2 linked regions of the Homo sapiens genome follow. The protein of the gene in region 2 interacts with the protein of the main gene of each other region in a biochemical or structural test. Each region holds a gene or a part of one and is shown on either strand. Other genes may lie near its edges. The genes, in order: DAP3 and AHR.

Region 1 (3,540 bases), on a different chromosome or scaffold from region 2:
ACTCCTAACCTCAGGTGATCCACCTGTCTTGGCCTCCCAAAGTGCTGGGATTACAGGGATGAGCCACCACGCCCAGCCAACATTTGTTTTAATACCTTTATCATGTTTTTTTGAACATTGAGCCTTCCATTAAGTTTGGAATTGCCTGTCAAATCCTACACCAATTCAATTGTTTTGTTAGGATTTCTTTTAAAAATATCAACACTGGCTGGGTACAATGGCTCACGCCTGTAATTCCAGCACTTTGGGAAGCTGAGGTGGGCAGATTACTTAAGGCCAGGAGTTCAAGATGAGCCTGGCCAACATGGTGAAACTCCATCTCTACTAAAAATACAAAAATTAGCTGGGCGTGGTGGCACACGCCTGTAGTCACAGCTACTTGTGAGGCTGAAGCAGGAGAATCGCTTGAACCCGGGAGGCGGAGGTTGCAGTGAGCTGAGATCGTGTCACTGCACTCCAGCCTGTGCGACAGAGCGAGACTCTGTCTCAAAAAAAAAAAAAAAAAATTAACACTATTTTAGTTATACTTACAAACAGTATTTGTTAGATATTCTTATTAGTAGACATATTTTAATATTTTCTTTGCAAATCAGTTTCACACACATTAGTACTTCCCAAATTTCCCACCAAAGTATTCTGGTAGCAAAAGGGGAATTAAACTCTGAAAGGTTAGTATGCTGGAGGTATGAGGTATGGATGGCCTTAGAGTTGTGAGGCAGCTGGTCACACCTGCTCCTGAGCCGCCATGTATTTAGTTCTAGAGAAAAAAGTCTAAATGGTTAAAGTAATAAAAATAAATTTTAGGCCAGGTGCGGTGGCTCACGCCTATAATCCCAGCACCTTGGGAGGCTGAGACGGGTGGATCATGAGGTCAGGAGTTCGAGACCAGCCTGACCAACATGGTGAAAGCCTGTCTCTACTAAAATTACAAAAATCAGCCTGGCATGGTGGTGGCACCTGTAATCCCAGCTACTGAGGAGACTGAGGCAGAAGAATTGCTTGAACCCCGGAGGCGGAGGTTGCAGTGAGCCGAGATCACACCACTGCACTCTAGCCTGGGTGACAGAGTGAGACTCTGTCTCAAAAAAAGAAAAAAAAAAAAAATCAACTAAAAATAAATTTTAGGCCAGGTGCAGTGGCTCACGCCTGTAATCCCTGCACTTTGGGAGGCCAAGACGGGGGTGTCACCTGAGGTCGGGAGTTTGAGACCAGCCTGACCAACATGGAGAAACTCCTTCTGTACTAAAAATACAAAATAGCCGGGCATGGTGGTGGGTGCCTGTAATCCCAGCTACTCGGGAGGCTGAGGCAGGAGAATCACTTGAACTGGGAGGCAGAGGTTGTGGTGAGCCGAGATCGTGCCATTGCACTCCAGCCTGGGCAACAAGAGTGAAACTCCGTCTCAAAAAAAAAAAAAGAAAAAAAATTTAAAGAGTTAATGTTTATTGAATTATTAACTTGTGTCAGAAATTTTAAGCATTTTTCTATATGCTTTCCATATTTACAGTGGCCCTAAGTGGTATACATAATTTTGTTATGAGATATATCAATTATTTATAGATTTCAGCTGAGATAGAATATATGCTTCAGTAATAGGAATAATCAAAAGCTGACTATCATGTTACTTAGTGCGGAATAATGTATTTCAGTTTTTAGCTAAGTTATATGGATAGATTTTCAAACTCAGTACCAACCCAGCTTCTCCTAACTGAGTAAATTAGAGGCATGCAATCTGATGGTCTTGGTTGCCACTTTAGGCAGAGTATATATACCACCCCCCACCCACTCCTTCCACACCCACCCACTCTTTCCTTCTTTCCTACTTTATCAGGTGAAGACATTCAGTGAAGCTTGCCTGATGGTAAGGAAACCAGCCCTAGAACTTCTGCATTACCTGAAAAACACCAGTTTTGCTTATCCAGCTATACGATATCTTCTGTGTATCCTTTCCTGCCTGCGTGGACCCTCATGAACCAATGCTTTCTCCCCTCAAATAAGGCAACAGAAGAAATGAAAAAAAGTACTGTTGAGGCCGGGCATGGTAGCTCACACCTATAATCCCAGGAGTTTGGGAAGCCGAGGCAGGCGTATCGCCTGAAGTCAGGAGTTCAAGACCTGCCTGGCCAACATGGCGAAACCCCGCATTTACTAAAAATGCAATATATTAGCCGGGTGTGGTAGCGTGCACCTGTAATCCCAGCTACTTGGGAAGCTGAGGCAGGAGAATCGCTTGAACCCGGGAAGCGGAGGTTGCTGTGAGCTGATATCAAGCCACTGCACTCCAACCCCATCTCAAAAAAACAAAACAAAGCATAACTACTGTTCACATACAAGTGATCCTTCCAGTCATGTTTTCTTTAACAACATATACTTTAGATGGAGAGAAGGGAACAGGAAAAACCCTAAGTCTTTGCCATGTTATTCATTTCTGTGCAAAACAGGACTGGCTGATACTACATATTCCAGATGGTAAGAACTTCCTGTTGTTTCTTCTGTCTGTTAGGTTTAGTTATCCTGTTACTGTGGTAGCCTTGCAGCTTTAATTTTCTTTTCTTTTCTTTTCTTTTTTTTTTTTTTTTTGAGATGGAGTTTCGCTCTTGTCGGCCAGTCTGGAGTGCAGAGGCGCAATCTCAGGTCACCGCAACCTCCGCCTCCCAGGCTCAAGAGATTCTCCTGCCTCAGCCTCCCAAGTAGCTGGGATTACAGGCGCCCACCACACCACCACGCCCAGCTAATTTTTTTTTTTTTTTTTTTTTGAGACGGAGTCTTGCTCTGTCGCCCAGGCTGGAGTGCAGTGGCACGATCTCAGCTCACTGCAAGCTCCGCCTCCCGGGTTCACACCATTCTTCTGCCTCAGCCTCCTGAGTAGCTGGGACTACAGGCGCCCGCCACCATGCCCGGCTAATTTTTTTTGTATTTTTAGTAGAGACAGGGTTTCACCATGTTGGCCAGGCTGGTCTCGAACTCCTGACTTCAGGTGATCCACCTGCCTTGGCCTCCCAAAGTGCTGGGATTACAGGCATGAGCCATTGCACCCGGCCTCAGCTTTACTTTCCTAACAGGGATCTGATAGCTAAAGGAAAAGCCTTTGCCAGTCACGATGGCTCAAACCTATAATCCCAGCACTTTGGGAGGCTGAGGCTGGAATATTGCTTAGAGCCCAGGAGGAGGCTGCAGTGAGCTGTGATCGCACCACTACACTCTAGCGTGGGCAACAAAGCAAGACCCTGTCTCAAAAAAAAAAAAAAAAAAGAAGAAGAAGAAAAGCCTTTACTCCAGATGTAGAGCAGACTGAGCTCATCCATCATGATTTCTTCGTGATATTACTGCCAAGCAGATTATAAGGTGAAGTCAATGTGACAAAAGGAAATTCGGCTAAAAGCTTCCTGAAGCCTTTTGATGCTAAGCAGTCCTTCTTTTGATATTTAATACCCATGGACATAAACTTCTGCCTTAGAGGTCGCCATGGAGTTTTGTTTTGTTTTGTTTTGTTTTGTTTTTGCCATCTGTTAACAGTCCTGAGTACCCATAGAGCCTTTT
Region 2 (4,034 bases):
TAGAAGACAGGGAAAACAAAGGCACTTAAACATGAACATGATATATTTAATTGCTTAAAACAATATCAACCAGTCCAAGGGATGGTTCTGACATCAAAATAATAGCAGCACAAGGAGGAAAAGGCCCTCCTGCACACAGATATTCCACCTCAGACATACACTCACATGTCATTTAACAAAAGGGGCATGTTCTGTGAAATGTGTCCTTAGGCAATTTCATTATCCTGTGAACATCAGAGGGTAGGTTCACAAACCTAGATGGTATAGCTTACTACGCATCTAAGCTATACAGTATAGCCTTTTGTTCCTAGGCTACAAACCTGTACAGCATGCTATCGTACTGAATACTTAAAGCAATTGTAACATGATGGTAAGTATTTGTGTATCTAAACATAGAAAATATACAGTAAAAATACAGTATAAAAGACAAAAAATGGTATACCTGTATAAGAGCACTTATTGTAAACAAGGTAGGCAGGACTGAAAGTTGCTTTGGTTTAGTCAGTGAGTGAGTGGTGAGTGAATGTGAAGGCCTGAGACATTACCGTACACTACTATAGAGTTTATAAACACTATACACTTAGGCTACGCTGAATTTATAAAAAATATTTTCCTTTTGGCCAGGTGCAGTGGCTTATGCCTGTAATCCCAGCACAGTTTACTGTAACATTTTTACTTCATAAACTTTTGCATTTTTAACTTTTGACTCTTCTGTAATAACACTTAAACACAGTGTACAGCCATACAAAAACATTTTCTTTCTTTATATCCTTATTCTATAAGCTTTCTTCTATTTTTTAATTTTTAATTTTTTTACTTTTTAAACTTTTTTTGTTAAAAACTAAGACACAAACCCACACATTAGCTTAGGTCTGTACAGGGTGAGGATCATTAATGATCCTATCTTCCACCTCTACATCTTGTCCCACTGGAAGGTCTGCGGGGGCAATAACATGCATGGAGCTGTCATCTCCTGTGATAACAATGCCTTCTTTTGGAATATTTCCTGAAGGACCTGCCTGAGCCTGTTTTACAGTTAACCTTATTCTAAAATAATGATTAAAATAAAATAATTAAAAGTATAATACATTTAAAAATAAAGTAAAATAATGATTAATAGTAAATACATAGTGATTTATTATTGTTTTATTTTCAAGTATTATGTATCATATATAATTGTATGTGCTATACTTTTTATATGACTGGCAACACAGGTTTGCTTCCATCAGCATCACCATCAACATGTGAGCAATGCTATGACATCATTAAGTGATAGGGATTTTTCGGCTCCATTATGATCTCATGGGACTACCATCATATACATGGTCTGTTATTGACCAAAGCATCATTATGCAGGACATGACTCTACATACTAATTGTTCATGAGCAATAACACTGGGAAAACTGTCTCAAAGCATAATTCTAATTCTGGGTCAGCAAAATCCTCTTCAGAAATAAACACATAAACAAAAATCATTGCTTGGTAATGTTAATTTAAGATTTGATTATCTGTTTCAAATTCCTTGTTATTCACAAAAAGAATATACAATATACTTTGTATTTTCTTCTCCTGTACTTGGTAACATGAGCTAAGGATACAATGAGATAACAGACAAGTCCACTCTGAGGAATCCTAAGCTGTTCCCTACAGTCAACTCCTATGCAGGTGTTCAGACTTTGTAACAAGAAAACAGCATCTCCTATCAAATGATGATTCCACAATCATGAATATACAATCGTTTTTCTATGTGGCAGTTATTTGAGACATATGGAAAGGCCATAATTTCTCTGTCTAGCAGGCATTCAATCCCAAGATGGTAAGCATCCTCCTATTAAAAAAGGGCTACATAATTCTCTCATACCTTAAAAATCCTAAAATAGTCAAAATACAAGGCTTCGTGTTATTTCACTCAATTTTTGTTACTATATCCTAAAGAACAGTTTTCTGAGTTATAGAAGATAGTCAAAATCAGAAATAATTACTTTAAAATGTTACTTTCCTTTATCAAATTATTTGGTAGCAGATTTTTAAAGCTGAAATCAAAGATAACCAAAGAAAATTGGCTTGTTTTTTCTATAACTTAATGTTAAACTAAATTTGGGCTGAAGATGCCTCTGCTCCTTAAGTCCTTACCAAGGAATTGCAACTTCATTTACTATATAAGCTAACGGAAAGCCTAACAGTAGAATTAAACTTTTGTAACCAAATAGCTGAGTCTCAGTCAGTCACAGGTGGCCAACTAATCAGATCATCTTCAAATAAGGCAAATCCCAAGCTGTAATCAATCAAGCCATTTCTGTACCTCACTTGCATTTTCTGTTCATAAATGCTCCAGCCCATGTTTTTAAGTGAGCTCTCTGAAGCTCTCTGGTTCTGAGGGTTGCCTGATTTGGGAATAGTTCTCTGCTGAATTATATTTTGCTAAATTAAATTTGCCTCAAGCTTTTATTGTAACAATAGTAAAAGCCAGTATCATAAAATTTTGTACCTTACCAGAAAACCAGATGAATTATCCAGCAGACACCTTAGACGACATATGAAGCACCTCTCCATTAAAGGAGAGTTTTCTGGAGGAATCTGGTCTGGGTTATAACAGACTACTGTCTGGGGGAGACCAGTGGCTTCTGTAGAAATAAAGGCAAAACAAAATTTACTTTCCATTTTGCTGTAAAATTAAGCACTTGAATAGGTAAAATTTGTATTAGTTTCTAAACTGGAGTCTGTGTTCTGAATACAAAAAAATCATTTTCAAAAGAGCTAATGACAAGAAACTAAAAGTTTATTAAATATCACTTTTATCAGATAGAACTTGCATAATTTTTTAAATTTTTATTGAGCTATCACTGTCAACAATTTTCATATTTTCTAATGCATTTTTGTTTTCTTAACACTTTAACAAATTTCCAAAAACATTTTTTGCATTGAGAAAAGCATTTTTATACTTGCATATGCTAGCTTACTTTTTTCTTTGGTGCATTTTAAACACAATAATTTACATGCACTCAGGTATCAACCTTGTACCTTCCTTCCATCTTTCATGAAGGTACTACTTATTTTTATAAAATACATTACTGACTATGGCAATACTCTGTTGCCTGAAACTCATTAAATGGCTCTCATTTGCCAAAATATTCCTTAGCTCATCAGGCTCTTTGTGACCTAGCTGTGGCCTATGATTGCAGACTTTACATCTTTCCACTACTTCCCTATCATGGAGTTCTATGACCCTACAGGTTCCCAGCCTCCTTTCACAGACTCATATTTAAAAACTACCAACACTATTTTTTGTACCATCAATTCTTACCTTCAATTCCTTGTCCAGACTCTGTACACTGAGAAGGATTTAATGCCCAGTGTAGCTGACGCTGAAATTCAGCTCGGTCTTCGGTATGGATAAGTTCATATACACTCTGATGTATGACATCAGACTAAAGAAAAAAGATACAAGGAATACAACAAAAGGACTGATTAAAAAATATGGCTAAATTAATTTTAAAGCCTATTTAGATTAGTGGGTGCTTGCTAGTGGTGATGAATACGAATTGAATGATTCCTAAAATTCCCTAGTCACCTAAGATAGAACCTAAGGTAGAAAAAGCTAAAGAGACTGGCACTACAACAGATAAGCCAAAAGTTACTTGTCATCAGTTCCCAACATGAATGCTCTTGCTCAAATAAGTCACATCCCCATTCCTTAAATGCAACATATTAAAATCTGTTTATGTTCCATATTCATTTGTTAGTTTTTAGATTCTTATCTCTTCCATGCAGCTTTTCCTAACCACCCCAGGCCTCTTTGACTTCTCTAAGCTTAATGGTATTCTTTATGTATTTCCTTCACTGTTCTCTAAAATTTTCTTCATATAAAATTTTCACTCCAAGTAGACTCCACAAGAGCAAGGGATTGTGCCTTTACCATATTAAACCCACTTTCCTTCTCTTGCCTCTCACCATTTACTACGGTGCTGAGTCCTTAGTGCTTAAACCAGAGTTTTCCTTTTTTTTTAACTGCAAGTTATGATAAAAAATACAT

Evidence for each region.
Region 1: the proteins of AHR (region 2) and DAP3 form a complex in vitro, tested with the Homo sapiens proteins (one study listed by BioGRID).

The regions. Positions count from the first base shown.
Region 1 is NC_000001.11:155,723,551-155,727,090, forward strand, and holds part of DAP3 (small ribosomal subunit protein mS29), read left to right. Parts: intron 1-1,831; coding exon 1,832-1,940; intron 1,941-2,376; coding exon 2,377-2,469; intron 2,470-3,540. UniProt on the Homo sapiens protein: As a component of the mitochondrial small ribosomal subunit, it plays a role in the translation of mitochondrial mRNAs. Involved in mediating interferon-gamma-induced cell death. Displays GTPase activity in vitro.
Region 2 is NC_000007.14:17,329,347-17,333,380, reverse strand, and holds part of AHR (aryl hydrocarbon receptor), read right to left. Parts: intron 3,430-4,034; coding exon 3,306-3,429; intron 2,626-3,305; coding exon 2,495-2,625; intron 1-2,494. UniProt on the Homo sapiens protein: Ligand-activated transcription factor that enables cells to adapt to changing conditions by sensing compounds from the environment, diet, microbiome and cellular metabolism, and which plays important roles in development, immunity and cancer.